Homo sapiens: one gene and its partner. The protein of the gene in region 2 interacts with the protein of the main gene of each other region in a biochemical or structural test. Each region holds a gene or a part of one and is shown on either strand. Other genes may lie near its edges. The genes, in order: SLIT2 and GPC1.

Evidence for each region.
Region 1: the proteins of GPC1 (region 2) and SLIT2 form a complex in vitro, tested with the Homo sapiens proteins (one study listed by BioGRID).

Annotation. Positions count from the first base shown.
Region 1 is NC_000004.12:20,249,842-20,253,744, reverse strand, and holds the start of SLIT2 (slit homolog 2 protein isoform 1 precursor), read right to left. Parts: upstream 1,841-3,903; 5' UTR 1-1,840. UniProt on the Homo sapiens protein: Thought to act as molecular guidance cue in cellular migration, and function appears to be mediated by interaction with roundabout homolog receptors.
Region 2 is NC_000002.12:240,459,493-240,463,395, forward strand, and holds part of GPC1 (glypican-1 precursor), read left to right. Parts: intron 1-2,698; coding exon 2,699-3,090; intron 3,091-3,854; coding exon 3,855-3,903. UniProt on the Homo sapiens protein: Cell surface proteoglycan that bears heparan sulfate. Binds, via the heparan sulfate side chains, alpha-4 (V) collagen and participates in Schwann cell myelination.

The DNA of each region.
Region 1 (3,903 bases), on a different chromosome or scaffold from region 2:
AGTGTCTGAGGCCCAGTGCCCGGCGGGGCTAGCAACCCAGAGTGCCAGGGAAAATGTGCACCAAATAATATGGAACAAGGCAGTAGAGCCCACTCAGGCACACGCCTCCCACCGCCCTCTCCACCCTCCTCTGGCAGAGCAGGAGCTCCTTGGGCAACTTTAGGTCCTGAGGATGAATCCGCCTGGCCAGGGCTGCAAGGAGACCCCAAGAGCAGCGGAGAGGAGATCACGCGTCTTCTGTCTCCCAAGGATGAACTTGGCGGTAAAAGAGCTGGGGCTTCCAACGGCTGCTAAGATGCAGGGGCCGGTTGTTGTGGGGAGGGCGGTCCTCTGATCCCACGCACGCTTCTGCAAATCCGATGCCAGTGGCGAAGGTACAAGACAGAAGAGGGGATCTCAATAGGTATTATGGCCCCGATCAAAGTGGGCTCCGGAAGCTAGAAGGCGCGGAAGCCCAGCGGGCCCGTAGCAGAGCGCGCGGGGCAACTGGGCATGGCGCGCGGGGGTGCACGGGGCGGACGCGCAGTTCTGGGGGCGCACGGCTCTGGACTCTGCTCACTCACGCGGCCTCTCCCTCGCCCTCGACTCCGCCGCAGCCTGGACCGGTCCTCGCGGTCTCCCGACAGCCAACGATGGTTTACAAACACACATGCACTTCGCTGAAGGATGTCTGGGCAATCCCGCCTCCCGCTCGGCGTCCTTGGCGACGCTCTGCACCAGGACCTGCCCCGAGGTCACGCAGAAAAGACAAAAGGGCAGTCGGGCCGCCGCAGCCGGGCAGAAATATCCACTAGTCAGCACTCCGGCGAGGAACTCCAAGAGGCCAAGTGGAGGATGAGAGCTGCTGCGAAGACTGAGTGGGGACTGACTGGGGGCGGACTTAAAAACCAGGCAGACCGGAAGGAGTGGAAAGGCAAAGGCCAAGGTTGGAGGTGTCAGCGTCCTGCTGGGGCGTACTGGAGAATGGCTCGGTGGCAGGTGGGCGGGTGGGATCCACTACTCCAGGCAGAGCCAGGCGGCAGCTGAATGGCAGTAGTGTGTGCGCGCGTGTCAACCCCGCTCGTCTCCCAGATAAGCCGCAGCTCCGCGGCAGACACCTGATGGCAAAGGTAGAAGAAACAAGAGCCGGGTTCCGGAGGGCGCAGAGCCACGGCCGGCCCCCGGCGGTCTCCCACTAGTGGTTCGTCCTTCTCAAAGTGCAGCAACTTTTCCCAGGCTTTGAATTCCGTCCCCCAAGGCCACAGTGGCGGTACCCCTGCCGGCGTGGCGACGCCGCCCGGCTCCTGGCGCTGCACCTGACGCGGCGGCCGCAGTCCCGGGTAGTCCTTCTCCTTCTAGCCCCTTCCCCTCTCCCGCTGCTTTCCTGGCCTCCCGCTCCAGGGAGCGAGGTCGGGGAGAGGGAGGGCGACGACTCAGAGCGGGGACTCGGTGGCTCTGCCGACTCCGGAGCCCCTGGCAAGTGTCTAAACAATAGGACGGACGCAGCAGCCCAAGTCTCGCTTGTCTGGAAGGAAGGTGGGTTGTTGTCGTAACTGGAGTTGTTCGCTGGGGCTGACTGGCGCTCAGCGTAGCCAAACAAAAACCCGGCCCGCGCCTCCGGAGCCGGCTGCGGGCCCCCGGCGCTCCCCTTTCTGCTCAGCACTCCCGCCGTGCCCAGAAAGCGCGGCAGCTTCGGCCTGCGCCTGGGCGCTTCGGCGCTCCCATGCCTCGCAGCTGCCTCCGCCTCCGCCGCCGCCGCCGCCGCCGCCTTCTTTTTTTTAACCACAGTCTGCGGCAGCCACCACCACCGCCGCCGCCAAGCTCCGCCGTCCGGGCGCTTCCCAAATAAATAACACCAAGTCCGAAGTTGAGCCGGCGCGGGCCTTATATAGCCGCCCGAGCCTCCGCCCCCTGACCCCGCCCCTCGAGGCCCAGGCCCGCCCCCTGGCTCCGCTCTGGGAGCCCGCACCTCGCTGGGGAGAGGGGAGAGGTGAGGCCGGGGCTGCCAGCGCTGGGCGGAGGCGGCGGCTGGCGGCGCGCGTTCCCGTGCGCCCTGGCTCGCCCCCTCGCTCCCACGCGCGGGCAAACTTGGCCCGAAGAAGGAGCCACCCGAGCCCCAGCCCCCAACTCCTTGGCCCCAGAGGTGACCTGGGCTCGGAGATAGTCGTTTGCAGTGGGAGAATGGGAAGAGGTCGGCTTTGAACGCGGCTCATAAATAAACAGCCCTGCCAGTGCCTCTCCTGCAGCTTTTGCCACGCGATCCTTAAGGGGGCTGCTCACTCTTTGCAGCGCAGCAAGAGACAGAGAGACAGAAACAGAGAAATTATGATTTAAATTTAAGAAAAATCCTACCGAAATAGATCTGCCTGCGCTTACAGACACACACGTGTATTTTGGGGAGCTGAAAAGTTCAGTTTTTGCAAGTTGGAAAACAGCATTTTCCAACCTTCTTGCTTGCCTTTCTATCTCCAAGCCACCCCCTTCCGTTTAACCCTTCCTTTGTAGACACACACTGAACCACACCGTGGTCAGTTGATGTCTTGGATATTCAATAGGCTCACAAAACTCTTAAGGGCTTGAACGTATCTGTGTGATTTTTTACTCTCTTATGAGAGAAAGGAGGGGAAAAAATAAATCCCTAGCAACGCACATTATACCAGAAGGTTTTCTTTATTTCAGGGCAGTTCTGGATATTTTTTTCCCCGCTATGTTTTGAAAGAGAATTTCCTTGTTTCATCTTGTCTCTTTAGTGTGACGTATGTCTGGCAACGGCTGCCTCTCTCGCCCCCCTTTCCCCCCCAGCAAGAGCCAATGTCACTGTAAGTTTGAAATGACATCTAAATGACTCTGCTCCTTCTCTTGGATTTAATATGCATCATATTGTTGTTCTTCCTCCCATTTCCACGTTAAGAAGCTTTCCCTGGAATTTGTGCAAGCCCCCGCCTAATACCAGCCTCATATTGTAGTAGTTATTTGTATAATTATTAGAAGCTTCCTTGAAAGCAAGACCTGTCCAACTCTTTGTATTTCCAGCATCTATGCCTGCCACATAATAGGTTTCCTCATAAGTAACCGATTTCTTTAACTCAAGAGTATGCTCAACCTAAAATCTCTGCAATATCCTCATTAACGTTTTTCCTGGTTAACATTTTCTAAGATGTCCTTTCATAATGGCTACCCCTACTTACCTCATTTTGCCTGCCTTGGAAAACGTAAGCCTTTTCGAGGACACGCCCAAAGGCAGGGTACCATCTGATAACTGAATTGGAACTCTTAGGATTACTCATTTTAATGCCACAGATTTATATTGCTCTATTCTTTTAAAACCTTCAAAAACATTTGACATTTATTAACTCATTTGTCCTTCTAGATTTTAGCTTAAAGGTCTGTTATGTAACTTCCTTGAGGAGGAGAAAAAAGAAGCCCTTGTCACATTTTCTTGTAAGGAAAATGAGATAAAGAACAAGTACCTGTCATTGAGGAAGGAGCTCCCCCAACCCTCAGTGAATTTTCCTTAGTGTGTACCAGTAAATTATGTGGTTAAATATGGTTGCTGATACATTAATTTATTTAATTTCACAACTTTAATATCTTGTCAGCAACAAGAGGTGTTTGTGTTCAACTTTGTGCACCACATAGAATTGTTGTTCCATATTTTAATTCCAAGAACATATCCTGCATTCCAAATATTTATAAATAATATTATTGATATTGTTGCATAAGTGAAATTCACAGACATAAGTTCAAGTTTCATTCTATCTCTGATCACTTTCTGTTTTGTGTAAAACCAAGGAGAAACTAACATACATAGCAACATGCCTACAGAAACATCTTTTTAAAATTTGAAGCCAATTTAAATAAGAAGCTATGTTCAGTGGATTTCATTCAGAAAAAAGAAAGACTGTAATTAATTCTTGAGAGGCA
Region 2 (3,903 bases):
TCTCCTGAGCACCTGCAGGGAGACAGGCCTTGGCCAAATCCTGCCTGCAGCTCGTCAAGTGCCCCAGGCCACTGCCCCTGGGGACCAGGTGGCCTGGAGCCAGGGAGCTCAGTGCAAGGGCTGAGACTGGGGCTGGGGACAGGGCTGCAGAGTGCAGGGCCTGCCTGGGGTGGCCGCCACTCAGCCCTTTATATCGGGGCAGGAGTCTGGGGGCCGCGGGGAGTGACCCCTGCAGGCCTTGAGGCCCCGCCAGCTGCTGCATTAGAGCCACGTACTCCTCGGCCCAGGCTGGGCCTCGCCTTGTGTCTGGGCAGAGAGTGGCAGCCACCCCCAGGGGGACAGTGTGGGGTCAGGAGGTCCTCCATGAAGTGACCTCTGATCAGAAACACGAGGACTTGGTGGAGGGAGGCGGCCCGGGCTGAGGTACTGCCCCTGTGTCCGGGCGGAGCCAGGGCGCCGGGACAGTGAGCCTGGGCAGACAGGAGGGAGGGAGCGCTGAGGCTGCAGGGCTCCATTGTGGCTGTGAGGGACGGCAGCTGCTGCTGGGGCCCTGGGGTTTGTCTCAGCGTTCCTGCTTCTCCGGCTCCTGGACACCTGCTGTGGCCTCCCAGGCTCCCGGGAGAGTCTGCCTGTCCCCAGGAGCCCCCAAGGCCATTTCCACAGGGCTGTGGGACCTCAGCTGTTGGCGTACACCTGGGTAGCAGTGGGTCAGAAGCTCCCTCTCTGTGACTTGGACATCGATGCTCAGAGCTCAGCCCTCCCCGCTGGTGTGGGGCCCGTGGGATGCGCGTGGCCCCTCTGGGACTCTCCTTCCTCCTGCCCAGCTGGACCCGGGGAGCGAGCCCCTGCACCCTGAGTCAGGAGCCTTCCTGAGCCACTTGGTTCTGTCCCATGTGTAGGGACCCGGCTCACCTCCTCCACTCTATCCTGGGCCTCAGTTTCTCCCCAGCGCCGCTGAGCCCTGGCTCCCGCCCCAGCGTGCCACCCAGCCCTGCCCCTTCCCCTCTCCTGCTAATACCCTTGCCCATCACACCATCCTCCTGGCCTGGGGACATCCTGCCCGCCTGCTTCCTCCTGGCTCTTAGGGGGTTGGTGTCGCTGCCCTGCTCTGGGGCCTGTCCCGTGTCAGTGCCCTGCCGCCGCCCTCCCTCTGCTGCCCTCTGGAAGCCTCCAGCCTTCCTGTTCAACTCTCCTATCTTTGACCTGAAAACACAGACACCCTTTGGGGACATTTGTATTAAAAATGACCCACTATGTGATGTGCCCAAGGCCCACCTGTGCCCCTACCCCAGGGAGTCTTGTCCAACCCCCACCTCCTATGTCCTCCCCTCCCACCCCTGCCCATGGCAGCTGCTGTCCCCTCCCAGCCTCCGGGGCAGCTGAGGGCCCCTGGGTCTTTGTCTGCAGTGCTGGTGGGAACCAGTGGGAGGCGGTAGGAGGGGAGCCTGGCTGGACCTCTGGTTGCTGTGTTCAGGGATTTGGAGCCCTGTGTCCGCCCCCCCACCAGCCTTCAGGAGCAGCTGAATGGGTTCTGGCAGGAGGTAGAGCTGGGGACTGCACCTGGATTTGGCCCATGGCCCTCTAGGTGTGTCTGGGCTAATGCATGAACCACAAGCCGCCCCTTTCCGGGACAGGCCAGGGCGTTCCAGGCGCCAGGACCCAAGGTGGACACTGGACAGCTGTGTGGCCCGTCCACCCTCCCCACAGCGGCCTGGGAGCTCTCTGTAGCCCTGCCAGCCCTGAAGCCCCAGGCCTTGCCAGGGGTCAGCGTGGGGGCTGATCCAGAGATCTCAGGCTTGACGGCCCCCGTGCCTCAAAGGAGAGCCTCTGCCCTGCTACCCTGGAGCACCTTGTGGTGGGCCATCGAGCCCCCGGTACCTGTGGGGCAAAGCCGGCCACAGCCCTAGGGACGCTCTGAGCAGTTACAGACCTGGAAGTCCCACTTCCAAATGGGATGGGGAAGTCCAGGGTCCCATCTAGGCCCGGGGTACGGGGGCTTTTCCCTAAAGCCCCTGCAGCACATGTGGAGGTCTGAGGGTGAGCCTGTGCCTCCACACCCCCTGCCCAGCAGGGGAGATGTCTGGGGTTCTAGGCTGCAGGAGGCCCCCCAGAGCCCTCAGACAGGCCCGGGGTGCTCACAGCTGAAGCTTCTAAATCGCAGAAGCTGAGAGAAGACAAGAAGCCTAGGAGAGCAGCCGAGACAGGGTGGCGGGAGGGGCAGCAGCCCTGGAGACTCGCAGGGCAGGCGGCTGGGGCCACGGGGAGCACAAGTGGGGACCAGTGGAGAGAAGGAGCGGCTGGCAGGGGGGCACAGACCGGCCCTGCCCCTCTTACCCCAGTGAGTCCCCATCTCCACCAGCAGCCCCTCCCTGGGTGTTCTCAGGGGGTCACTGAGTCACAGAGCATCTGTTCTGCCCAGGGCTCAGCTCAGAAACTGCCACTGGAGCCCCAGTCAGAGGCCCTGAGACCCGAGAGGACCCCCTGCCACCTGGGCCCCTGCTCCCCAGGCCAGGGGGTGAGGTCTCGGGGCGCCCCATGGATGCCCACAGGGCCCACAGCCGCTGCAGTGTGGCGTCCGACTCCGAGGTCCTCAGAGTGTATCCTCAGAGCTGAGTCTCCCGGGCTGAGTCCCCTGCTCTGGTCCAGCTGCCACGGCGGGGGAAACATGGTCCCGATCACGCCCCCTCCCTGTGCGCAGACCACTTCCAGCACCTGCTGAACGACTCGGAGCGGACGCTGCAGGCCACCTTCCCCGGCGCCTTCGGAGAGCTGTACACGCAGAACGCGAGGGCCTTCCGGGACCTGTACTCAGAGCTGCGCCTGTACTACCGCGGTGCCAACCTGCACCTGGAGGAGACGCTGGCCGAGTTCTGGGCCCGCCTGCTCGAGCGCCTCTTCAAGCAGCTGCACCCCCAGCTGCTGCTGCCTGATGACTACCTGGACTGCCTGGGCAAGCAGGCCGAGGCGCTGCGGCCCTTCGGGGAGGCCCCGAGAGAGCTGCGCCTGCGGGCCACCCGTGCCTTCGTGGCTGCTCGCTCCTTTGTGCAGGGCCTGGGCGTGGCCAGCGACGTGGTCCGGAAAGTGGCTCAGGTGCGCACAGCCACCCAGGGCTCTCAGAAACCCCTCCAGACCCCCATGCTCTGCCCAAGGGACTTCCTCTTCCCCCTACTTTAACCCTGTGCCCCTGGGCCTCTGGGCCAGCCTCTGACCTCAGCCCCACAGCCTCAGTCCCTCCTGCATTGGCTGCTGCCCATGGCCTGCTAACAGCGTACCCACAGATGTGAGCCTTGCTCTGGGCAGGCGGCTCTGGGCTGGCCCATCCCTGCCCAGAACCATCATGGGCCAGGATGGGAAGGGCCAGGGGCTGGGGCTGGACGCTGAGCCAGGCTGTGGAGTGAAAGTGCAGAGGAGACAGAAGAGAACAACATGCGTGGGGGCCGGGCAGGGTGGGGCCCCAGAGCCTCGCAGGCCAGGGGGATGCCTTGGTCCCTTGCGGGGCACGTGTCAGACCCAGCTAAGCTGGGACATAGGGAGGGCGTCAGCCTCAGACCCACATGCCCTGGGTGGGAACTGCCCCCACCTCCAGGCTCCTGGGCAAGTCATGCCTTGGTTTCCTCAGCGGCATGCGGGTGAGGATATTCTTGCCTCCCTGTGACCCTCGAGATCATTAAAATGAGGGCCGTCTGGGCTGGCAGGCCCTGCGAGTCAGGCAGCGACCACCACGAGCTGGGGCAGAGCAGAGGCCTCCCCTGACTTCCCTCCAGAGCCCCCTACCCTGGGGCTTCGTTAGGGGCTGGCCGGGGCCAGGCACCCCCAGGGCCTCGGGGCCTGGCTTAGGGTCCCTTGCTCCCCAGGTCCCCCTGGGCCCGGAGTGCTCGAGAGCTGTCATGAAGCTGGTCTACT